7 linked regions of the Homo sapiens genome follow. The protein of the gene in region 6 interacts with the protein of the main gene of each other region in a biochemical or structural test. Each region holds a gene or a part of one and is shown on either strand. Other genes may lie near its edges. The genes, in order: C1orf87, PPIE, CSAG1, NPHP1, RALGPS1, TLK1 and UBR2.

Evidence for each region.
Region 1: the proteins of TLK1 (region 6) and C1orf87 form a complex in vitro, tested with the Homo sapiens proteins (one large-scale study listed by BioGRID).
Region 2: the proteins of TLK1 (region 6) and PPIE form a complex in vitro, tested with the Homo sapiens proteins (one large-scale study listed by BioGRID).
Region 3: the proteins of TLK1 (region 6) and CSAG1 form a complex in vitro, tested with the Homo sapiens proteins (one large-scale study listed by BioGRID).
Region 4: the proteins of TLK1 (region 6) and NPHP1 form a complex in vitro, tested with the Homo sapiens proteins (one large-scale study listed by BioGRID).
Region 5: the proteins of TLK1 (region 6) and RALGPS1 form a complex in vitro, tested with the Homo sapiens proteins (one large-scale study listed by BioGRID).
Region 7: the proteins of TLK1 (region 6) and UBR2 form a complex in vitro, tested with the Homo sapiens proteins (one large-scale study listed by BioGRID).

What each region holds. Positions count from the first base shown.
Region 1 is NC_000001.11:60,070,971-60,075,019, forward strand, and holds the start of C1orf87 (uncharacterized protein C1orf87), read right to left. Parts: upstream 2,801-4,049; 5' UTR 2,720-2,800; intron 1,701-2,719; 5' UTR 1,674-1,700; coding exon 1,567-1,673; intron 1-1,566.
Region 2 is NC_000001.11:39,752,382-39,755,881, forward strand, and holds part of PPIE (peptidyl-prolyl cis-trans isomerase E), read left to right. Parts: intron 1-528; coding exon 529-671; intron 672-905; coding exon 906-974; 3' UTR 975-3,500. UniProt on the Homo sapiens protein: Involved in pre-mRNA splicing as component of the spliceosome. Combines RNA-binding and PPIase activities.
Region 3 is NC_000023.11:152,726,984-152,730,721, reverse strand, and holds the end of CSAG1 (chondrosarcoma-associated gene 1 protein), read left to right. Parts: intron 1-2,497; coding exon 2,498-2,648; coding exon of another isoform or gene 2,649-2,699; intron 2,700-2,858; coding exon 2,859-2,928; 3' UTR 2,929-3,238; downstream 3,239-3,738. UniProt on the Homo sapiens protein: May play an important role in maintaining centrosome integrity during mitosis.
Region 4 is NC_000002.12:110,167,014-110,170,513, forward strand, and holds part of NPHP1 (nephrocystin-1), read right to left. Parts: intron 2,986-3,500; coding exon 2,793-2,985; intron 1,541-2,792; coding exon 1,439-1,540; intron 1-1,438. UniProt on the Homo sapiens protein: Together with BCAR1 it may play a role in the control of epithelial cell polarity. Involved in the organization of apical junctions in kidney cells together with NPHP4 and RPGRIP1L/NPHP8. Does not seem to be strictly required for ciliogenesis.
Region 5 is NC_000009.12:127,190,782-127,194,281, reverse strand, and holds part of RALGPS1 (ras-specific guanine nucleotide-releasing factor RalGPS1), read right to left. Parts: intron 1-3,500.
Region 6 is NC_000002.12:170,993,609-170,996,893, reverse strand, and holds part of TLK1 (serine/threonine-protein kinase tousled-like 1), read left to right. Parts: intron 1-133; coding exon 134-241; intron 242-2,937; coding exon 2,938-3,114; 3' UTR 3,115-3,285. UniProt on the Homo sapiens protein: Rapidly and transiently inhibited by phosphorylation following the generation of DNA double-stranded breaks during S-phase. This is cell cycle checkpoint and ATM-pathway dependent and appears to regulate processes involved in chromatin assembly.
Region 7 is NC_000006.12:42,658,029-42,661,528, reverse strand, and holds part of UBR2 (E3 ubiquitin-protein ligase UBR2), read right to left. Parts: coding exon 3,396-3,500; intron 3,290-3,395; coding exon 3,209-3,289; intron 2,884-3,208; coding exon 2,705-2,883; intron 1,874-2,704; coding exon 1,674-1,873; intron 1-1,673. UniProt on the Homo sapiens protein: E3 ubiquitin-protein ligase which is a component of the N-end rule pathway.

The sequences.
Region 1 (4,049 bases), on a different chromosome or scaffold from region 6:
AATAATATAGTTTTCCAGGTAGGAGATCTGAGCCAGGTGTCCAAACTAATTCTATTTACTTTTCTTGACAGTGACAGGGATTTGACATATCTCAAAATAATCGCTTACCATATCACAGTGTCTTAGTTTCCTCATCTACAAAACAGACATAAACTGTGTCCTAGGCATAGAATATAAAAGGGACATCAAACATTTCAGAGAAAGAGGTTCGATTTTTTGTTACATTTTTTATATCTATAGAAAGACTTCTATAATAATAGCAGGATTATTTACTAAGCATGTTATTTATAATAGACACTGGAAAGGTGCTTTGCATACTTTTTCTCATTTAATCCTCACAATAACCCTATTACTAGATAGGTGTTGTTTTATCCCCACTTCATATATGTAGAATCTAAGGCCAAAGATGTTAATTCATTTTCCCAATGTCAAAAAGGCAAGAAAGAATCAGACCTAAGATTCAATTTCACACCTCTCAGCACTGTAGGGATCCCAAATGTATGAATCACGTGCTGCAAACCTCAGTTCCTGTGCAGTGGCAGACATTACTAACTGATTATAGCAGTCACTTTGGAATCCCTCTAGACCTTACAATACTGATAGTAGGGAAGTAGAACTAATGTGCCTTTCTAAAGCCTTATTAAAGCCTGTACTTCATAACAGCAGTCTTGGTGACCTACATTCAGAGATTTTGATTCAGCAGACCTTGAGCTGGTTCCTGAATCTGTATTTTTGAGGTCTCTCCCAGTGATTCTGATGACAGCTAGGTTTAGCAAAAATTTCTTCTTGCACCTATGTTCAACAATACCATATCTTTGTATATTTGTTCAGTCTATGAGTTTCTGAAATAGAAGATAGAGCTAAGGAAATAATCTTAGGAAGGAAAAGTAATTTTTGACTAGCTATTACTTATGGAACGCCTACTATATGAAAGACAGATCTAGTACCTTCCCTCCTTTTTTGAGCCACTGAAACTCTGTAAGAAAGAGCTAGTCATACTGTTCTGTGCTGAAACATCTGGTGAATATTAGAAATACAGGAGTGTCATCTCTTAAATGTGACTCTGATGGGTTTGGAATAGAAGAAAGAGATCTTAGCCATGATCTGAGAAGCCCAAGCTTAGAGGAGTATCAAATACAAACAGGAGTAAGTGAAAACCTTACAATTTATGATTCTGTATTAATCCTACTCCTGTAATTCACAACAAATTGACTATTAAACCTCCCCCACTCTCCCCAAAATTAGTACATGTGGTAGATTACAAGCCCGATGAGAAAAGGCAGCAGTGCTCCATTAATATTTATAAATGTCGCAATGCTCATATTTCCCATCTATTTGGAAAATCAGCCCAAGTAATTAAGGAGTATGGGGAATTATAAAGATGAAAAATATCAGGAAAACAGTGCACATGGAAGTTATCAACACGATTTTACCTCTACTGTTGCATCTTAATGACTTCGTTTTCCATGGATGGCATTTTTTAAGTTTAAATTTCTGGGTGAAAACAAAACAATAAAACTTCATTATCATCCAAGCAACATAGATATTTTTCAAATATGGACTTACATCTTTGGCTTCTCCACGAGGTATTGAAAGTGTTTACTTCCAATGATTTTCACCATGATCTCAGGCATTGCATCTGATCCACGGGGAGTCTTCCAGGCTGAAGACATGATTCCTTTCAAAATCCCTTCAGATCCCTAGGGGTGAAAATAAGTAAATTGTTCCTCTTGATTTTCCATTAGGGAACTGCATCATCCTTGCCAATAACAACAAGCAATAATAATAGCAGGACAAAGTGTTTCACCTATATTACCTCACTTAACACTCCTAACAAAGGCATGAGAAAGATATTTTTAACTACTATTATCATTTTTGTTTTACTGTTGAGGAAACAAGCAAAATGTAGCTATATGACTTACTCACATCACATCACATCACCAGTAATTAGCCGACTTGGGAATCTCACCTAAGAGGTCTGTACAGCAGATCTACTGAATCATTAGGTGACTCTACCTTCCTGTACTACAAGACATAGGATGGAATTCCAGTGAGGTCAGAGCAGAAACAAGGGCATTAGTGGGACATATGAAGAATCCATATTCAGTTCTGATGTTTAGTTTCCCCATTTATGAGATCAGGGTAATTCTAGGTCTGTTCTCAGGGACTTGAGGGTGAATCCAAGGAGATAATGCATCTGAAGGGAGACTGTACACAAGACAGACAGACTTTTGTTGTTATCACTGATCTCTTTCTACAACAATACAATGAATCTGAAATTGAACTCCTGCACAAGGTGTTTAAACAGAGTGATGCCAAGGGAAAATCAGAAGTTCAGTAAATCTGGCCACAGCTGAACACTCCCTTTTAGAACCACCCAGAGGCTGAAAGGCCTTTAGAAATCATTCTACTCCAAAGGCTCCTTCACAGATTGGAAAACTAAGGCCCAGAGAGGGTGTGTTATTTGACAAGGGTCACAGAGGAATGAAGGACGGGACTGTTTCCAGTACTTGGGTCTGATGTCTAGGCCAGGGTTCTTCCCAAAAGTCCAATACTAAAGACCTGTGCTAGGGCAGCCCCTCATCCCGGGGACCTGCAGCCTCTTTGCACCTGTCTGGAATCTTCCAGACCCGGAACTCGTGATCCTCAAATCCCCTCCCTGCCCAGCAGCTGCGTGTCGGCCCTGATTGCCCGGAGAGAACAGAGTCGGGGGGCTTACCGCTAGGGCAGCGTCCCCACCCTGGCAGCTCAGAGGTGCGCGGTCCGTGCTTCTCCCCAGGAAGCTGACACTCTCAGACCCGGGGACGGGACGGGGCGTGGGGACCGAGCCCAGGAATCCGGCCAATCACAGGGCCCGCATCGCGGGCGGCGCCTGTTCCGCCCTGGTCGCTAAGGACGCTGAAGGCTGTTTCTGGGCGGGGACCAGGTTTTTCTCCACTGCCTAGGCAATGGACCCAGGCTCTGGCTGCCAACGGGTGAAGAGCCTAGGTGTTTTTGATCTGTGCCTTCTCTGTTCCTCAGAGATATGCGGGCGTCCTTCTAGAAGCCCATCTCGCTCACCTGTGTGGTCACCCTTGTCCCGCCCTTCCTCCGAAGGCTTCATTTCCCTTTGTGAGTTTGCACATAGTTGAGATTCCAACACAGTAGGTTCAAATCCAGACGTCTCCACTGTATGGCTTGAGTAAATCCCTTCTTTTCCCTGAGATTGTTTCCTCATCTGTGAAACGGGGCAAAATAATAACACTGTCCTAACTGCGATTTGGTGACTAAATTAAATAAGAATATCGGCCGGGCTCAGTGGTTCACCCCTGTAATCCCAGCACTTTGTTAGGCCGAGGTGGGCAGATCACGAGGTCAGGAGATTGAGACCATCCTGGCTAACATGGTGAAACCCCGTCTCTACTAAAAATACAAAAAATTAGCCGGTCGTGGTGGTGCGCGCCTGTAATCCCAGCTACTCAGGAGGCTGAGGCAGGAGAATTGCTTGAACTTGGGAGGTGGACCTTGCAGTGAGCCAGGATGGTACTACTGCACTCCAGCCTGGGCAACAGAGCGAGACTCCATATCAAACAAACAAAGAAACAAAAAAACCAGAATATTATAGATTGATAATAATAACGTTGAGTACTGTCTCTATGCCAGATCCCTATGACAAGCTGGATAACTCTCACCTCACAAGTTAATAGTTATAAACAAAATAGTTTTACTTTATTTTAAAGAGAAAAGAAACAAGTTGGGGTATTGATAAACTACTCCAAATCCTGCAAAAGCAAGTACAGAGCTAAGATTAGAATATAGATCTGCATATCCTACATTTCCAGACAGTTGTTATTATGCTAAAAGAAACTTCAGCTGATGCAGGCAAAGACACTTTAGATTGATTCCCAAACGGTATTGTTATTTGCATCAACATAGGCAGCAGCAGCTCCAGCATCTGTTCCCCTGTCTCCTAACCTCTAGCTGTACTGTGCTTTACAGGTGAATATATCACCCACTGGCACATGCAGCCAGAGGTGGACAGCACACTCAGCTCCCCTCCAGGGGCTCAC
Region 2 (3,500 bases), on a different chromosome or scaffold from region 6:
CTGTTTCAATAAATGACTCCACCATCCACTTAGCCGCTTGATCAGAAACTTAGGAGTCATTGTGGACACACACACACATACATACATGTACACATACACACACAGACACACACATATACATGTACATTCTCTTACGTGACAAATGTCCATGTTACCAGGCCTCACTGTGTCATAGCTGTCATTTTGAATGGCTCTTTTCCACTGATTGTGAGCTCCACCAGAGCTTGGACTATGTTCTGCTCATCAGTGTTCCCAGGGCTTAACAGGGACCTGGTTGTCAAGTAGACACTTAATTGTTAAATAAATGAATTAATGAAAGAACAGACCAGTATAAAGTGATTGAAACACCTCACTTACCATTTCACTGACTATTAACTGAATCCAAGATAAGGTGGCCGCATTTGCATGTGATCTGTGCATCCCCGAGTCTGAGCCTGACTGGCTGAAGGGCTGTCAACAGCCTGCACAGACGTCCTTTAAGGGCTGGTAGCCAGGGTTCGGGGAGCTGATGGTTGTTCTCTCCCTCAGGTCTACTATCCATGGCCAACTCTGGCCCAAACACCAATGGCTCTCAGTTCTTCCTGACATGTGACAAGACAGACTGGCTGGATGGCAAGCATGTGGTGTTTGGAGAGGTCACCGAAGGCCTAGATGTCTTGCGGCAAATTGAGGTATGTGGCCAGGAATGGGCCTCCTCCTTACCCAGGCCCTAGGAGCACAGCCCTGTGTGAGGGCTGGAGAGTCTCTGTGGCCTGAGAGAGATGGCCAGGGGCTGTGTCCAGCGGGAGGGGCTGCTGCTGCCCAGGTTCCGGGGTGGAAGTGGGCAAATGGGCAGGCAGGGGTTGGTATCCCTAAACCACTGTTAGTCTCCGGCCTTACTCCCTCACTTCTATTCTGCCACAAAGGCCCAGGGCAGCAAGGACGGGAAGCCAAAGCAGAAGGTGATCATCGCCGACTGTGGGGAGTACGTGTGAGGCGGCACTCTCTCTGCTTCCCCCTCCGCTCTTGACCCTGCATATCCAGGAAGGAACTGCCAGCCTCAGAGGAGGCAGCACCGAGGGTGCCTGTTTGAAGCAAGCAGCATTTGGGATATGTGCCCTTCCTCAGGGTCTGCTTGGAGCAGCTCCTCTGCAGGCACAGCCTGGACTATTCCCAGGCACAGCTGTGGGCCCAGGAGCCAGCTCAGGTGCTCCCCTCCACCATGGGCAGGCTGTGCAAAAAGCCACTGGCTTTTCTCAGCATTTGCTGCTGGGCCTCTCCTGGGACTACCAGTGTGGCTCTTACGTGTTTTCTTTGCTAAAATAAACCCTAGTTCTTATATTGCTCTTCCTGCTAGTTCTTGGGAGTTGTCAGAGATTGTGTCTGTGGCTAAGCTGGACCTCTGAGGCAGGCTGGTGAGTGGGGAGAGCAGAGCATCTTTTTCACAGCTTTCATTTCCTCCCTTGGGCCGATCCCCTTAGATGTCAGGTGATGTATCTTCACACCAGGCATCGATGTCAGGGCAACGGAAATTAAAGACTGGAAAGCTCCGGTCTTCTGCTGCCTCTGCTCCTAAACCCAGCTGCCGGCCTTACAGCCAGCAAGTGTACTCTCAGTGGTTCATTTGTTTATTTGTTCACTTTCACCCTACAGATTTTAAAAAATGAAATTTTTATAACTCAAAGTGCCTTCTCTGTGCCAAGTACTATGCCTATTTGTCAGGAGACAGGAAGCCAACAAACTACATGTGCCTAATCCAGCCCACTGCCTGTTTTTATGAATCAGGTTTTATTGGAACACAGCCACGTCCATTTATTTACATATTGTCCATGGTGGTTTCTTACTGCAGTGGCAGAGGTGCGTAAGGGGCTATAGACACAATACAGGCTATGGTCCCTGTATTAGGGTTTTCTAGAGAAGCAGAACCAATAGGGTGTGTATATATGTAGAAAGAGATTTATTTTAAGGAACTGGCTCAAGCAGTGGTAGGAGCTGGCAAGTCTGCAATCTGCACAACAGACCAGCAGGCTGGAGACTCAGGAAAAAAACTGATGTTGCAGTTCAGCTCTGAGGCAGTTTGGAAGCAGAATTCTTCCTCCAGTGATCTCAGTCTTTTTTCTCTTAAGAATTTCAACTGATTGGATGAGGCCTACCCACATTATGGAGGGTAATCTGCTTTACTCTCTACTGACTTAAATATTAATCCATCTAAAAAATAGGCCAGGCATGGTGGCTCATGCCTATAATTCCACCACTATTGGGAGGCTGAGGCAGGAGGATCACTTGAGCCCAGGAGTTCAAGACCAGCCTGGGCAATGTAGAGACCCCCATCTCTAGGGGGAGAAAAAAAAGCCAGGTATGGTAGTGCACACCTATAGTCCCAGCTACTCAGAAGGCTGAGGTGGGAGGATCGCTTGAACCTGGGAGGTTGAGGCTGCAGTCAGCCATGGTCATGCCACTGTACTCCAGCCTGGGTGACAAGAGGGAGACCCTGTCTTGAAAAAAAGAAACCATCATCACAGCAACATCTAGACTAGTGTTTGACTAAAAACTGGATACCATGGCCTAGCCAAATTGACACACAAAATAGACCATCACAGTCCCAAGGCCTAAAATACTTACTATCTGAGCCTTTACAAAACAGGATTGCCAGCCACTGAAGAGAACAAATGGTCCCACCCCCTGCTGAGCTCACAGTCTGGCTCTCCTGTGTGCAGCCACTTCTTGGAGCTGGCTTCTCTCCACTCCCCCTCCAGATGCTGGTCAGCCAGGCGGTTATAAAGAATCTCATCTGCTGAAGGCTTTTAGCAGGGACTGAGTCCTGTAGCTGTTGGACACCTCCTGTGGGTTGGGTCACTCAGACCATTCAGAATCCACTGAGCTGAGCTTTTGCATCTTGGATTGAGATCTGGATGAGCCAGGAGGCAGGAGAGGCTAGGTGGTCCTCATGACCCTAGGATAGCTCTTGCTGAGGGATGGTGGCATTCTGCCCTACCTCTGGCTCCCATGTGCCGACTGGACTTTGTGAGCTCCAGCTGCTACAGTTGACTGAGTTCAGGCTCCATGTAGCTGGGATATACTACATGGTTACCCCTCACCCCTATGGAGCTTCCAAAAGAGACCCTCCCTCAAAGCACAGCCCCTTCTCTGAGTGCAAATAATGGCCATCAGAGGTCAGTCACAGGTGTTAGGCAGGCATCTATGAAGCTGGGGATGATAGCACTGACTTCAGTGCTTGGACGAGAACCAGGAGAGAGTGTGTAGAAAAAGCACAGCCAGCCTCCCATAAAAGGACAGACTCCTGTGACAACCTTGTCACTCTGTTCCTCCCTGATACTCTGGGGAGGTGGAGGCCAGTGGGCAGTTCTGAAAGCTCAGCAGGTTTGGAGCCATTGGGTGTGGACTCCTCTCCCAGTGTTCCTCCTGGGTGTTCACAGATGTTATTGAATGCACACTGGAACCCTGCACAGGTAAACTGAGGCTTTATTGGCGTGACTGCCAAAGGTCACACAGGGTGGTTT
Region 3 (3,738 bases), on a different chromosome or scaffold from region 6:
ACAAATGCCTCTTGCCATTGTCTTAGTCCGTTTGGGCTTCCATAACAAAAATAGTGTAGACTAGGTGGCTTATAAACAACACAACTTTATTTCTCACATTCTGGAGGTTGGAAAGTCCAAGATCAAGGTGCTGGCAGATTTCATGTCTGGTGGAGTCCTGCTCCCTAGTTCCTAGACACCTGCCTTTTCCCTATGTCCTCGCATGGAGGAAGGGGCAAGGGATCTCTGTGGGGACTATTTTATAAAAACACTGATCCCATTCATGAGGTCTCTGCTCTCATGAACTAGTCATTCTCCAAATACCCCACCTTCTACCTAATACCATCACCTTGGTATTTCAGCAGATGAAGTTTGTGGGAACACAAATATTCAGATGAAAGCAAGCACGGAACCACCATTACAGTATTACCATACTAGTTTCACTGCCCTGATAAATCCCCTGTGCTTGTCAGATAACCCCCTTGGCTGCCACTGATAGGTTTTTCATCTTTATAATTTTGCCTTTTCCTGAATGTCATATAAATAGACTCGTATACTATGTAGCCTTTTTAGACTCGTTTCTTTCTAGACTCGTTTCTTTAGACTCGTTTAGCATAATGAACTGAAGAGTCATGTAAAACTTTGTGCAGCTTGTAACTTATTCCTTTTCATTGAGGAGTAGTAGTATCATTGGGTGTACCATATTTTAATGCGTGTGTGTGTGTATGTGTGTATATATATATATATATAATCCATTCACCAAATGAAATACATTTTGGATGCTGCTATTTTTGGTGATTGTGAAATAAGCTATTGTATACATTCATATACAAATTTTTATGTAGACATAAGTTTTCAAATCAATTGGGTAAATTGATTGAGTATGGCTGCTGAATCTTACGCTAAGTCTATGTTCCGTTTTTTAAGAAAACGCCAAATTGTCTTCCAAAGTGGCTGTGCCATGTTGCATTTCCACGAGCTATGAATGAGAGTTTCTGTTGCTCCACATCTTCCCTGGCAATTGGTCTTGGTTTTGTTTGCTTTGTTTTGCTTTTTTATGGATTTTGGACATACTAATAGGTGTGTAGTGGTATCTCATTTTAGTACACAATTATCTAATGACAAAACACGCTTAGTACATTTATTATGCTTATTTGCCATGTGTGTATCTTCTTTTGTGTAGTGTGTGTTCAGATCTTTGACTATTTTCATTTTTTTCTATCGCTGAGCTTTAAGAATTCGCATATATTGTAGAGACAAGTTCTTTATCACATATGTGTACCGCAGATGTTTTCTGCTAGTCTGTGGCTTCTGTTTTCATTCTCTTAACATTGTCTTTTGAAGAGCACATGATGTTTATTTTAATAAAATCAACTTGGCAAATTTTTCTTTCCTTGATCATGCTTTTGGTGTTGAATTTAAAAACTCATCTCCAAACTCAAAGTTATGTGGATTTCTCTCATGTTTTCTTATAGAGGTTGTATTGTTTTTGCATTTTTCATTAGACCTATGATGTATCTTGAGTTAGTTTTCATGGAATATGTAAGGATATGTCCAGGTTATTATAATTTGTGTATAGGTGTCTAATTGTTCCGACACCTTTTGTTGGAAAACCTGTACTTTCACCATTATTGCCTTTGTTGTGAATCACCTGACTATATGTGTGCAGGTCTATTTCTGAGCTCTATTCTGTTTTATTAACCTATGTGTCTATTCTTTGCTAATGCTTATGTCCTCCACCAAATTCATATTTTGAAGCCCTCAGCCCCAGGGTGTCTGTATTTGGTGATGAGGCTTCTAAGGAAGTGATTAATGTTAAAAGAGGTCATAAGGGTGGGGCCTTGATCCCATAGAATTAGTGTGGTTATAAGAAGGGAGAAGAGACAGAAGATAGCATTTTTGTGCCTGCATGAGCTCGCTGTCTCTCTCGCGCGCTCTCTGCACATGCACAGAGGAAGGGCCAAGAATGGACATATTGAGAAAGGGCCATCTACAAGCCAGGAATAAGGCCATCACCAGAAGCCAACCCCGCCAGTCCTTGATCTGGGACTTCCAGACTTCAAAACTGTGAAAAAAGATAAATTTCTGTTGTTCCAGCTACTCAGTCAATGACATTTTGTTATTCTAGCCTGAGCTGACTAGTACATAACCTCAGGTAACACAATTTTTTTTTGTTTCCTCCTAGAAAAAAAGCCCGTAATTTTGGCATTTAAGATTGCGGTTCATTTTGAGTCACATTTTTGTACGGTGCAAGATATTTGCAGTGGCTAGTATTATGTGTCAACTTGTCTAGGCTATACTGCTCAGCTGTGTGGTCAAACAGTAGTCTAGATGTTGCTGTGAAGGTATTTTGTAGATGTGATCAACATTTACAATCAGTTGACTTTAAGTAAAGCAATTTAACTTCCATAATGTGGATAGGCCTCATCCAATTAGTTGAAGGTGTTAAAAGACCAAGGTTTCTTGGAAAAGGAATTCTACCACAAGACTAACATAATAATGTCGTGTGAGTTTCTAGCCTGCTGGCCTGCCTTCACTGTCCTGGGGGAAGCTCGGGGAGACCAGGTGGACTGGAGTAGACTGTACAGAGACACTGGTCTGGTGAAGATGTCCAGGAAACCACGAGCCTCCAGCCCATTTTCCAACAACCACCCATCAACACCAAAGAGGCGAGGAAGGGGAAAGCATCCTCTCATCCCTGGCCCAGAAGCCCTATCAAAGTGAATGGCCCACCCAAGCTCTGACTCCTACCCTGTCCTCCCCTGGCACAACCCCCACCCCAGCCTGTACCATTTCTCTATGAAACCCCTGTTCTCACCCCTCCTCCATCCTCTTCCCCAAACCAGTGCCCTCCTGTGATCTCCCTGTTGGCTTTCCAGGTTCCCAAGACAACCCAGAAGGGAAAAGGGACCCGTCAAGGAAGTTCCAGGAACAAAAGGCTCTCCCTAAAAGACCACCGCTTCAAAAAAACCTGAGGAATGGAGTGGGCCAACACTATCCAGCCACTCTGACCAGCCGAACGAGGAACTCAATCAAAATGCGCCATAGCAGGACCACAAGGGCAAGGAGACCACCGCCTTCTCCAGTGCTTCCTTGGGCAGCCAGTAATTCCCAGGCAAGGCCAGAGACTTCAAGTCTATCTGAAAAGTCTCCAGAAGTCTAACCCCAGATAAATAGCCAACAGGGTGTAGAGTACGTTTTACACCCCAAAGGGTATGCCCCATGGTGATGGAAATAAAATGAACATGTTGTAAAATGATGTGTGTGTCTGTGTGTCTCAAAGGTTGGGGGTAGGGCTTAAGGGGAAGAGGTGGGAGTGTGGGAAGGGATGGGGGGATCCTCTACAATTTCTTTAAATTCAAATTGCTCTTTGTTCTTTGGATTCCTAGGGTGAAAGTTTTGGTTATTGATTTTAGATTTCATTTTCTAATATAAACATAAAATATGCTATACATTTCCCTCAAGGAAACACTTTAGCTGAATCCCATTTTTGTATGTATATTTTTATTTTCATTCAACTTAATGTATTTTTAAAATTCTCCTGAGACTCCCTCTTTGACCCATAGGTTATTTAGGAGCATATTTTAAAATTTCCAATATTTGGGCATTTTTCAGATATCTTGGTGTTTGGTTTTGAATTTAATTATATTATGGTCTAAGAAGAGGCTTTTTATTATTTCTATTTTTTTTTTCAATTTGTAAGCTTTGTTTGATGGCCCAGAATACCATCTATCCTGGGAAATATTTCATGCACACTTG
Region 4 (3,500 bases), about 61 Mb from region 6:
AATATTGATATGTCAAAATAGTATTTTTGATATACTGGATAATATAAAATATATTATTAAAAATAATTCTACCTGTTTCTTTTTACTTTTTAAAAATGTGTGTAATGAAAAACATGTATTTGTTCTTTGTCACTGATTCCTGGCACAGAGCTCCTGAAACCCTTGGAATTTCCTGAATGATAGGAGTATGTTTTCTTACTCATCAAGAGTCCCCTTCAGTCACTCCTGAGTTTATGTTAATGAGGTAATTCTAGGTGGGCACCTAAACAGCTTCAGGAAGGGGACAGGTTACCAGAAAAACCAACCCAGGTATTAGAGGTTAGAACTTTCAGCCCCACCCTCCAACCTTCAAAGAGGGGAGAGGAGCTGGAGACTGAGTTAATCACCAATTGCTAATGATTTAGTTAAACATGGCTAATGAAACCTTCAGAAAAACCCCTAAATGATGGGGTTCCAGGAACTTCCAGGATGGTGAACACAGCGAAGTGCTGGGAAGGTGGAAGGCCCAGAGAGTGCATGCCAGCCACCCCCAACCAATACCTCACTCTATGGCTGTTCCTGAGTTGCATCCTTTATAATAAACTGGTAAATGCAAGGAAAGTGTTTTCCTGAGTTCTGTGAATCATTCTAGTAAATTACTGAACCCCTGAGGTGATGGTATGGGAACTCGTGAATGTATAGCCAGTCAGTCAGAAGTATGGGTGGCTCTTGGGACTTGTGACTGGCAACGGAAGTGAGCAGCAATCTTGTGGGACTGAGCCTTTAACCTGTGGGGGTCTGTGCTAGCTCCAGGCATTAGCATCAGAATCGAATTGAATTGCTGACACCGGTTGGTGTAGAAGAACTGATGTAATAACACATATTTGGTGTCAGAGAAAAACCACATACTTGGTGTCAGAAGTGGCATCAGCAAAAAGATATCTCAGTGTGGCTACTGAAAAATTTAAATTACATGTGTGGTTTGCATCATAGTTCTACTGGACAGTGCTGATCCAGACAGAAATCTATATATCTTGGCACAGAAAATGACCATGTTATTTTATGAAATAAGAAAATACAAGCTACAAACACACATGTATAGTATGTTCACATTTTAGTAAGGGGATCACATATTTGTGGAAGTTAACACAAAGTTAACTGCAGTTATGTTTTACAATAAACAATAGACACCTATTATTTGTTATGATCAGCATTAATCCACAAAGCATCCCCTCATTGTGAGATCACGTTCCAGGGCTCACATGCGTAAGAGCACTTCACAGGTCCCCAGGACCATTAATACACAATGTTTTTCCCAGGTCCTGTCCCTCCAAAATTAAAGCAAATTCTATATCTCAAGTCATTCACTAGTCAACTGACAAAAGAACACAGCTAAATGTTTTATTAAAAGCGAAAAAAAAAAAAGTCTTAGAAAAGGAAGGCATAAACCAAGACTAACCTCTAGGTAGGTTCTGGGAACAAGACCTTCATTTCCTTTGGCATCCTTAGCTATCCACCAACCATCAGGTTTTTTTTCAATTACAAGGAGAATTTCCCCTTTCTTAAAGCAAAACAAAGTAAACCATTTTAAATAAAATTCAATAATCATGAGTATATGTCAATACCAATGATTCAAAATATGTGCTGAAAAAAAGGCAAAATCTTTTTTTAATCCAATATTTATCCTAAGGTTTATCAAAAGCTTCCCTATCACCCGACCCCTATGTATTCTGCCTAACTCACCTAAAACCATAAATGTGACATAGTTTAATGAATCATTCCTTTTGGTTACCTAACATACACTTGAGCCATTTATGCAAATGGGAACCATTTTTCACAATCATTTTTAAGGCCCCATACTTATTCCAAAAATTCAATTACTGCGTAAAATATTTTTGAATGTTTTAATATCTCTGGAAAAGTGTCTTTCAGAAGCAGCATATAAATTCCCAAAGAATATCAATTCCATTAAAGTTAAACCCTATTTTTGAGCAAAAATAGTATTTACTGAATATAATTACCCACTTAATTCACCAGATATGTTTTGAATAACACTCACTCATTTATAAAAATAAAATTCATCTTTGAAGACAAAAGCATTTCCACCACTAAGGACACTACAAAAGCAAACACTTAATTAAAATATACATTATTGTCTAATATTGATACCATTTTCCAGGAGAATTTGAAAAAAAAATCTATAAATCAAACCATATAATTATTTGCATAATATTCTTATGTATTTTATTATTAATCAGTTACTAAACTTTGAAGTTTAATATAAGAACTAAAATTCATATATTCACTTAAATTTCTTTGGCTCATTTCTCTAGCAGAAAACACAGGCTCAAAATCACAACTTTAAAAATCACAACTTTATTGTTCTGTCCCACCTGCCACTTATTTATGCCCAGGCCAACCAAGCATGGATGTAAGCCCCTCTCATATCTAAGCTAACAGGAAAGACTGCTACAAAATGGCAGGAAGTGCTCCCTTCTACCTCCACCTATGGACATTGCCTAACTCACTTGAATGAATTTATACATGACATTCAATAACAAATTATAAAATTTTACCCCTAAATTAGGAATTCTCAACATTAAAGCTACTTTCAAAAATCTTTAGAAGAGGTAACTTTAGTAACACAATCTCATATTACTACTGCTTGTAAATTGTAATTATTACTTATTTAAATAGATTGTTATAAAACTGCATTTTAAGAATCTGTAATACAGGTGTACAGGCAGAGTTTTCTTATTCTGTTAGGTATGGACATCGACCCTTAGGTTAGGTTTCAGTCTTATTCTACCTACCTTAAATGTAAGATCTCCAACTTGCTGAGCAGTAAAATCTCCAACAGCGATGTATTCTTCACCGGTTGACCATTTGTGAGATTCATTTTCCTCTTTCTCTTCCTCTTCCTCCTCTGCATCTTCTTCCTCCCCACCACTGTCTTCACTATCTTCACTTTCACTTTCTTCCTCTTCTTCAGTAGGTGCCCCAACTCTACAAAAAGTGTTTCTGAGTAGGACTACTTGAAATAATATACAAGAACAGACCAGCTATGAGTGTAACTTCTACATATACATGAATATCCCATATTTGGAGCTGGCAAATAAAAGAAATAAGGGAAAATACAAAGAACAGTTTCTACCATCTAGCTAAGACCGTGTGCCTGGAGAGACTGAGGCGGAGAGGGAGCTGAGTCATGTATGTGAGATGGCAGAGCATCACTGGACTTGAGGCCAGGAGACTCCGAATTCAAGTCTTGGATTCATCCATTCAGAAAATGCTGTTGAAGCATTATTATGAAGTACTTAGAGCATAGGCTCTGCTAAATTTAAATTCTGGCTCTATTCCCTCTTTGCTGGGTGACCTTGAGTAGGCTTCTTTTAAGCTCTCCATTTCTCATTGGTAAAGTGGAGATAATAATAGAACCTGCCTTCTAAGATTGTCATGAGGATTAAGATGAGTTACTACTTGCAAAGTGTTTAGAACAGTGCTTGCCCATAGCAAGCTTT
Region 5 (3,500 bases), on a different chromosome or scaffold from region 6:
CTACCTGGGACCATGGATAGGTTACTGAACATATCCCTTGAGCTGCAGTTTCCTCATCTGAAAAGTGGGAATAATTCAACTCACCTTGCAGGTGGTCAGAAGTCCATGAGGTAATGTACGCAGACTTTCATAGTTAGCCCTCATACTTAATTTATTATGGTAATTATTACCATGTCCTTCTCAACCCAGTCATGGGGCTAACAGGTCACCAGAGCCAGGGAGTTAGGGGCGCAAACCTCACTGTGCACAATACACAGACACTGAGGCCAAATCCTTCATGCTGGCCATGTCTTCAGCCATGTCTGGAGGAATGTGACCCTGGCCACTGTGGCACTCTTTAGTTTCTGTGGCTTGGGAAGGGAGGTCTTTAAGGGAGGTGACTCCAGAGGCTCGCCTAGCTCTGGCTATCTGGGTCAGGCCCTGGGGGTGGGAAAGAGTGACTCTACAAAGGGGCTCAGCTGCTTCCTGCAGAGAACACCAAATGCAGAGCAGATCAAGGGGGTGGCTGCCTGGCCATGGCTGGAGAACTTTCTTGGGGGGACCCATAAGGCCCAAGCCCACCCAGACCTCCAGGTCCTCCAACACAAGGCCCTACAGACCCACCAGTGGCCTACAGGTTCCCATGTCCTCCAGCCTGCTTGGGTCATCTTAATGTCCAAAATAATGACCCACACCCCCAGCCCGTATACTGTGGGAAGGCTGGCCCATCTGGCATTTTGGCAGATTCAGGAGGCAAGGGCACTTGCATCACCTCCAGTTCTGAGCTCCTGTGCTGGCTGAGTGCTCACTTCCCATGAGTTGTCTTCTCTGCTGTCCCCCCTCCTTCCCAACCCCACTCTGCACAGGCACCTTCTCCTTCATCCGCCCCCACCAATCCCTTTATTAAGCCTTAGCCAACTTTCTTATTCTCAATAACATTCCAAAATGTCACTTCTTTCCTCAGTGCCCCCGGGCAACTCCAAGACCCCACCCCTTTCAAATGCTGCCACTCTTTACTTCAGTGACAACACTGGATGTCAGGTGGGATCTCTCTCACAGCCACCCTTGCAGTGGCCATGCACACCTCCATTCACACTGGCCTTCCCACCAGGCCGGGGCCCTTCTCTTCTCTCAGGTCCTACCCGTCTCCTCTGATAATTCCCTGCCTCACTTTCCCCTTCTCTCTCTGGCTCCTTCCCCCAGCCTACAGGCAAGCTCTAGTCTCTCTTTCCCTGTAAGCCAAGGTCCTTCACTGGATCTTTTCCCAGCAAATGGAGGTCTGTGCTCCTCCAGTCACTCAGCTCTGACTTCTGTACCTAATGACACATCCACTGACCTCCTTCTTGCCAAATCAATGAAGGCTCGTCAGCCTCCTCCCAGAGCCCTTGGCACCTGGTGCTCGGGGTCACTCCTTCTCAAAATGCCCTCCTTCCTTGGCAGGCACTATGCCACACTCTCCTGCTTCTCCCTGTGCCTCTTCAATCACTGTCACCACCTCTTCCGTGAGATCCTTCTCTTCCTCTAACACCCCTCATGCTGGAGTTGTCCACACAGGACTCCCTCTTTGGCTCCTGTTTTTTCTTTGATTGGATAGCTGATGACTCTTAAATCTTGACTACAGTCCTCTTTTCTTTTCTTTTTTTTTGACACAGGGTCTGGCCCTGTCACCCAGGATGGAGCGCAGTGATGCTATGATGGCTCGCTGCAGCCTCGACCTCCCCGGCTCACCAGCTCAAGCAACCCTGTCAGCTCAGCCTCCTGAGTAGCTGGGATCACAGGAGGGTGCCACCAGGCCTGGCCCAGACCTCTTTTCTGAGCCTGAGACCCATACATCCACCTCTTGGCACCATCCCTCCATCTGCCCTTTCCTAAGATGCATCAAGTGCAGCACAGCTAAGGCTAAGCCTGCAACTCCTTCTCCTGTTTCCAGCCTTGGCTGGAGGCACTGTGGGTTGCCCAGTCGCCTGGCCTGGAATGGGAGCCCACCCTCGGCTCCTGCCACACGGCAACTTGCCTCTTCTCTCCTCCCTTTCCCTCCTCACTTGCTGCACAGTCATCATGGCCTCCAGACTCTGCACAGCCCCTCCCTGCCCACCTCTCTTGTCACTGACTGGTCTGGGCCCCCACATTTTATTGTCTTCCTGCCTCCAGTCTGATCTTCTAAAATCTAACCCAAGCACAGCTTCATAAGTATTTGAAAAACGTGAAGCTAACCATGTCACCGCCTTGCTTGAAATCATCCATGACATGGTGTTCAAAGTTCTTCCTGACCTGGCCATTTAAGCCACTCTTAAAATCCCAGTGGAGGCCGGGCGCCGTGGCTCACGCCTCTAATCCCAGCACTTTGAGAGGCCGAGGCGGGCAGATCACAAGGTCAGGAGATCAAGACCATCCTGGCTGACACGGTGAAACCCCGTCTCTACTAAAAATACAAAAAATTAGCCGGGCGTGGTGGCAGGTGCCTGTAGTCCCAGCTACTCGGGAGGCTGAGGCAGGAGAATGGCGTGAACCTGGGAGGCAGAGCTTGCAGTGAGCCGAGATCGTGCCACTGCACTCCAGCCTGGGTGACAGAGTGAGACTCCATCTCAAAAAAAAAAAAAAACAAAAAAAAACCCAAAAAACAAAAACAAAAAAACCTGATGGAAAAGAAAAAAGACAGAGTAGCCAAGACTATTCTGAAGAAAAACAGTGCAAGACTTGCCCTACTGGATGGCAGAACAAAACCTAAAGCAGTAGTATTCAAAGAGTGTGGTATTGGGCATGGATGCAGACACAGTTCAGTGAATACAAAGTGAGAGCCCGACATGCTTCCTGATGGTGGCGGCATTACCAGTCAGTGGGGAAAGGAGGAACTTTTCAGGATGAGGGGCAAAACCACTGGGTTCCATGTGGAAAAAGACAAAATTAGAGTCCTGCCTTATGTTAAGCAAGTGGATTAATGTCACAAATGTGAAAAGCAAAACTACTGGGAAAAAAATAGGAGACAATCATTATAATCTTGGGGAAAGGGAAGAAAGAAAAAACACAAATCCTAAAGGAAGAGATGAATAAATTTGACAACATTTAAATGTCTGTACCAAAACAACCGACCAAAAACGACATCAAAATCAGTGTTAAAAGGCGAATCACAGTCTGGGAGAAGGTATGTGTCACCCCTAAACCAACACAGGATTAGCTTTCAGATACACAGAGAACTTCAAATATCTGTAAGAAAGGACAAACCACACAGAGAGAACAAGCAAAAGATATGAAAGGCAAATTCAAGGAACAGAGTCTCCAAATGGCCAGTAACAATAAGGAAAGACGCTTAACCCCACTGGTAATAATGGAAATGCAAATGAGAGTAAAAGGAGATATCTTTTTATTACAACAGATGGTAAAAAAATAAAAAATTTAGCCTGACAATGTATTGCATTGGCAGAAGGGGAGGAACAGGAACTCTAGTTTGGGGCTTATATGAAGGTGAAATATTTGGAAAGCAATGAGCAGTGCTGAATAAAGGAAGATGCCCTGCCTTTTAT
Region 6 (3,285 bases):
CAAATAACTGAGGAAGATTTTAGAACACAAGATATTTGGATTTTCGGTTTTGGGAATTCGCTTAAACAGAAATGATATCTGTGTTTAAATATTTTGTGAGAAAAGTATCTCAACATTTAATTTTTTTTTTAAGCCATTTGGTCACAATCAATCTCAACAAGACATTCTTCAAGAAAATACAATATTAAAAGCCACAGAAGTCCAGTTCCCTGTAAAACCGGTTGTAAGCAGTGAAGCCAAGGTATTAAATTTTTGTAAATGAGTTTTGTGAAGTAACTTTTCTTTCATCAGTTGTGCTGACAACAAGGTAAGTACTTTCCAGTAAGTAAAGTCACAAGACTCGCTGCTGCAGGGGATCTGTCCAGCAGGGGCTGGTGATTTACTTTCAGAGAAGGAGTTGCATCAGCCTCTGGTTGCTATAGTTTTTATCTTTTAAGCTATGGTCTCTGATTGTTTATGTTCATCAGCTGCTACTTTGAAAATTAGGGAAAAATCACAAGATCTGGGCTCATCATTACCTTTTATGTATTATTTTATCTGCTTATGTTAATACTGAGATATATAAGTATATAAGAAATATTAAAAGTAATAATAAGGCTGGGCGTGGTGGCTCACACCTGTAATCCCAGCACTTTGGGAGGCCAAGGCGGGCAGATCATCTGAGGTCAGGAGTTTGAGACCAGCCTGACCAACATGGTGAAACCCGGTCTCTACTAAAAATACAAAAATTAGCCAGGCGTGGTGGCACACATCTAGAGTCTCAGTTGCTTGGGAGTCTGAGGTGGGAGGATCACCTGAGCTCAGGGAGGTCAAGGCTGCAGTGAGCCATGACGATACCGCTGCACTCAAACCTGGGGGACAGAGTGACACCCTGTCTCAAAAAAACCAAATAGGCCATGCGCGGTGGCTCACACCTGTAATCCAGCAATTTGGGAGGCCCAGGCAGGCAGATTGCCTGAGCCCAGGAGTTCGAGACCAGCCTGGGCAACATGGTGAAACCCCATCTCTACTAAAAATACAAAAATTAGCCCGGTGTAGGGGCCCGTGCCTTTAGTTTCAGCTTCTCAGGATGCTGAGCTGGGAGGATCGCTTGAGACCAAGAGGTAGAGGTTGCAGTGAGGTGAGATCGCACCACTGCACTCCTGCATGGGCGACATAGCAAGACCCATTCTCAAAAAAACAAAAGAGATAAATATTCTTATTTGAAAGCAAAATGAATTATTTTTGTAAGATAAATATGACTCCTTTAAAAATATTTTAACTGTGCTGACATCTAAATCTTGTCTTATTTTCTGTCTGTAGCCTCATTGAGAACAGAAATTAAATGAATTTAGTTGATTCATGATCTGTTTGTTTAATACTGACTGAAAAGACCAGGAGGAGTGGAGTTGCCAAAGGCAAAGTCTCATTTAGCCATTCCTGGTTCTCTCCTTAGGCTCTTAATAGGCACCACAGTCACCTTTTAGAGATCTGGAATCCAGGAAGGGTTAAGGGGTTGTTGGGGGGATATAATATTAATATGATACAATTATATGATATAAATTTTAATATTTTAATGTAATATATAATATCTCTATATTCTGTATCCCTACAGAAGATACCTTTGCCAAGTACTTTCCCTGACTTGGTGTGGGCATCTTTAAGTACATTATTTGTTGCAGACTTAACCTTAACCTTGCTATTGATAGCCTTTCCACTCCTCAAACTCTAACATATCAGTCTTGATGTTTTTTTCCCTCTTAATCATTTTTCAAAGTGATCTCTGAAACTTTGTTAAAGATAAAAAAGATAAGTCCTCTAAGGGATCAGATTGACTTCCAATAAACAGTAAGCTATGGTAAAATGAGAATAGCTAGGTATATTTTTAGAGAAAAATATACTTCTAATGAATTTCAAAGCAAAGAAAGTGCAAAATAGTTACCTTTTAATGTGATTATACTTCTGTTTAATGGTATGTATTAATTTCTAGTGTCAGCATTAAGAAAGGGAAACAATTACCAGTTACCTCCTGAGAATATTTTATCTGTTCCCTCCCCCCCCAAAAAAGGATGAACCTCAAAATTTAATATTGGGTGAAAGAGGCCTGGCAAAGGAGAACATAATTTATAATTCTATTTATATAAAATTCAAACAATCAAAACTCAACTATGGTTTTAGAAGTCAAGATAAAGGTTAACCCAGGTTCGACTGGGGACAGAGCCAGTGCCTGGAACTGGGCATGAGGGGGATTCAGAGGTTCTTTTTCTTGATCTGGTTGCCAGTTACATAGATGTATTTACTTTGTGCTATGCACTTAACGATTTGTGTGCATTTCTAAAAATGTGTTACACTTCAGGAAAGGTTTTTTTTTTTTTTGTAAGAGGCTATTCTCAAAGAAAAACTGAGTAAAATTGGTTTGAGAAAAAAAAAATAGTGATTATATTCTGTTTATTTAGCTTTTCCAGGAGTGTAATGATGCATAGGGTTAACCTGGGAAACAATGTCCCTAATGAAAGTGTCCCTTCAGTGATCTCTTCATCTAAAGAAAGTCTTTATGTCAGTAGGAAAAAAAAATAATGGTTGAAAATGGCATCTTACCCTTTGCTAAACTGAAGTGATAACAAAATGGGATGAGGGTGGGAGGACTGTTTAGCAGAAGAAAAATGCTAGAAAAAAGTCTTCAGAATTTCGTAAGCAGAAACAACTTTCCAGTATAAGTTCAAATGGTTGCAGTAGTAATTTAGACTGTAAAGTGAACCACTGCAGGGGCTTCAAGCAGTGAGTTGCATTTGGAGTGAGAATTTTCTAGCTACAGAATTTTTTTTTTAAGGTTTGAACTTCCAATAAAATGAGATCTACTTATGTCTTAAATGTGTCCATCCTTCTGCTGATTCAGTTGATTGATATTTAGAAGGGAAAAAGATCATTAATTGCTAACATTTCCTTTCTCTTTTTGAGGCATTTATAAGACGCTGTTTGGCATATCGAAAAGAAGATCGATTTGATGTGCACCAGCTGGCAAATGACCCATACCTTCTCCCACACATGAGAAGATCAAATTCTTCAGGAAACCTACACATGGCTGGGCTGACAGCATCCCCTACACCCCCTTCTTCAAGCATAATTACTTACTGACTTTCCTCCAAGATTGGCATGATATCTTTGAATTTGCTTCCAGATGCACACTTAAGTTTGAGAGCATTTGAGTGTTTGTTTTCTTTTTCTTTTTTTTTTTTTTTTTTTTTTACACAAGACGTGGTTAAGAACTGTTTGTGAACTGAAGTTCCTCATAGTGTCATTTGTATG
Region 7 (3,500 bases), on a different chromosome or scaffold from region 6:
TATAAATTAGTATAATCTTCGAAATTTCCTAACACTCTAGAAAGAACTACTTTTAATTTGCTTTAATAGTTTTAATTTGCTTTAACACTAGAACAGTGCAAATGTCAAAGCATTAAGAAAATCCACTTATAGCCAGCTAATGCTTTTTCTTCAGAAGTAATAAGTTAAATAAAATTAGCAACTTTGTCTTTGGCCTGGAATGAAATTTATAAAGCACCTAGTTTAAATATCTTTTTTTTTTTTAAGACAGTCTCGCTTTGTCGCCCAGATTGGAGTGCAGTGGCGCGATCTCGACTCACTGCAAGCTCTGCTTCCTGGGTTCACGCCATTCTCCTGCCTCAGCCTCCCGAGTAGCAGGTAACTGCCACCACGCCTGGCTAATTTTTTTTTGTATTTTTTAGTAGAGATGGGGTTTCACTGTGTTAGCCAGGATGGTCTTGATCTCCTGACCTTGTGATCTGCCTGCCTTGGCCTCCCAGAGTGCTGGGATTACAGACATGAGCCACTGCGCCTGGCCTTTTTTTTTTTTTTTAAAAACAAACAAACAAACAAACAAAAAAACCACACAGGGTCTCGCTCCGTTGCCCAGGCTGGAGGGCAGTGGTGCAATCTCGGCTCACTGCAACCTCTGCCTCCCAGGTTCAAGCAATTCTCATGCCTCAGCCTCTTGAGTAGCTGGGACTACAGGCGCGTGCCACCAAATTTGGCTAGTTTTTTTTTTGTACTATTAGTAGAGATGGGGTTTCGCCATGTTGGCCAGGCTGGTCTTGAACTCCTGACCTCAGGTGATCCACCTGCCTCGGCCTCCCAAAGTGCTGGGATTACAGGCATGAGCCACCATACCCAGCCTAAATGACCATTTTTAAAGATGAAGCAGACCAACCTTTCATAAGTAGGATGCAAAGACTTTCTTTACAGAGAGAAGGCAACTCTAAAAGTGGGCTCTCAAACCTCCTTTCACGCTGCAGTGTGAAAGGCACTGGTTAAAGCAGTGCTCTGGGAATTCCCAAGACACAGTTCCTACTCTCAAGAAGTTTACTGGGTATCGCTGAAGCACACGCACACAGAGCACAACCTACAAGCAGAGAAATAAATGTGTCTGTGGTGGACAAAATCATGTGCGGACTGGATCTCCCTGCTTTACTCCCTCAGTTGCTGAAAGAGGGCCCTCAACTGTCCTGCACGGTAATCTGTATCCCAAGAATCTGCTTTCTGGGGAACCCGATCTGTGGTGGTATTACTATTCTAAAACAATTTGGCTCAAGGATTGCCTCTTACATAGGTAACTCTCCATCACTGTTCTCAGGAGATTCCACTCAGGCTCTATCAATAAGACAAAACAATTATTATTTCAGTGTGTCAACAAATGACCAGGACTTTGCAAGTGTACTGAAGGATGGAAAAGACTGTGAAATGCCAAAGTATGTAATGTTACATCACAAAGAAAAGCTTTTCTTTGAATCCCTGCTATTTATCAGCTATGTGATTCAGGTGCAACTTTCTGGAGTGGTTCCACATCTGCCAAGTGGGGAATTCCTGCCTAAGTTACCTGCCAAAGATACCATCCAAGTCCATGGAGTTATTTTTAGGTTTAAAAAATCTCAACGTATCACCAACCACATTAACTGGCAGTTGTTATTAAAAGGGAAGATGAGGATCTAGCTATGACTTACCTGGATCTTGAATAAATTTACTTCTGTTTTTTGATAATACAGTTGATCTCTGAACAAATGCTGCCAAGACCATTGCCCTGCTTTCCACTTTAACTTCTTGCTCCTCTTGACACAATATACATGTAACGAATTGTCTTTGTTCAGGAACCTGAGTTTGTGCGGGGCCCAGTGCTGTAAGTGTCATATCTGAAGCCACAGGGCTGCAATACAAAGGTTATGAATATAATTAATGATCCCAAAACTTTCTATATAATCACAAAATAGCAGACTACAGGTATGTGTGTGTGTGTGTAGTGTGTGTGTGTGTGTGTGTGTGTGTGTGTGTGTGTGTGTGTATATATATTTATTTATTTTTTGAGACAGAGTCTTGCTCTGTCACCCAGGCTGGGGTGAGTGGCACAATCTTGGCTCACTGCAACCTCCGCCTCGCAGGTTCAAGCAATTCTCCTGACTCAGCCTCCTGAGTAGCTGGGATTATAGGCATGCACCACCACACCCGGCTAATTTTTTTTTTTTGTATTTTTAGTAGAGATGGGGTTTCACCATGTTGGTCAGGCTGGTCTCGAACTCCTCACCTTGTGATCCGCCCGCCTTGGCCTCCCGAAGTGCTGGGATTACAGGCGTGAGCCACCACGCACAGCCAGGAATGTATATATTTAACACATGGTTTTGATAACTTGGATTGTCAAGTCTTTGGTATGTATCAAAACCATCTCCTTTAATCCTCACAGTAATCTAATCTTCAACACAGATGTCATACGCTCTAGGTAACTGAGTGTAGTGTACTCATTCTTTCATGAATGTCCAAGGTCTTCTGCAGAAAATACCCTACCAGGTGTACACAGGACTTACCATACCTACATTCAGAGACTTCTAAGATTAAATCTTCTAAATGGAGGTCACAAAATTTACCTATGAATTCTACTAAATTACTTTAGGATTAAAAGTATACTTACAAGGAGAAAACGCAACACTGCCCCTAGTTGGGAAAAACTCGTCAAGACATTAATTTTTTTTTTTTTTTTTTTTACCTATGATCAAGAACAGCAGAGGTTGAGGCATCCAGTTCTAATGTCTGCTGAAAGAGTTCTTTGTTTTCATCAATAAAATGCCGCTGCATTTCAGACATCTGAGCCATGATCTTTTCTCTGCGCAGTCTGGCAATCTCTGCTTTTCTCTTCCTCTCAGCTTTGTCTTTGTCCCTTGAACTCTGAAATTATGCTCCATTCAATTAGACAATTAGATGCTAAAACGCACATTTTTTTCCAAAGCAGAAATATCTTCACTGTAAATACCAATTAAAAAACTATTCTATAATCTCACTTATTTAAATAAGAGAAAAGACTCTTAAACTGACTTGTTTTAAAGAAAAAAAGCAGACAAAAAATTGCTACAACAAATAGAGATAAATAGTGGCATATTTCTTGGAATTTAAATGTTGTGAGTAACTGGCAACTTAATGTAGATAAATTTATTTTGTTCATACTGAACTTGCTGTAATTTTTTAGTATTATCACACTTTTTACTGTTTATACCTCTTCCATTATGGTTCCTTCTGTCTCTGCCACGGGACTGGTAGGTGAACTCTCCCTCATCTTTTTAACAGCATTAAAAGTCTACAAAAAAAAAAGTATCAGTATCCTGTATGAAATATGATCACAATGTACACATAACAAATATTCAATATTTCTCACAAAAAGCAGAGGAATGTGGAAATTTTACCTTCAATATCCACCGAATCATGTCTTTGTGGACTTCTAGGTAGGGAGCATTTTGTAGTGTTTCCAGCATAGCTAGTATGCTAGGAGAATTTTTTGGCGCTTCACC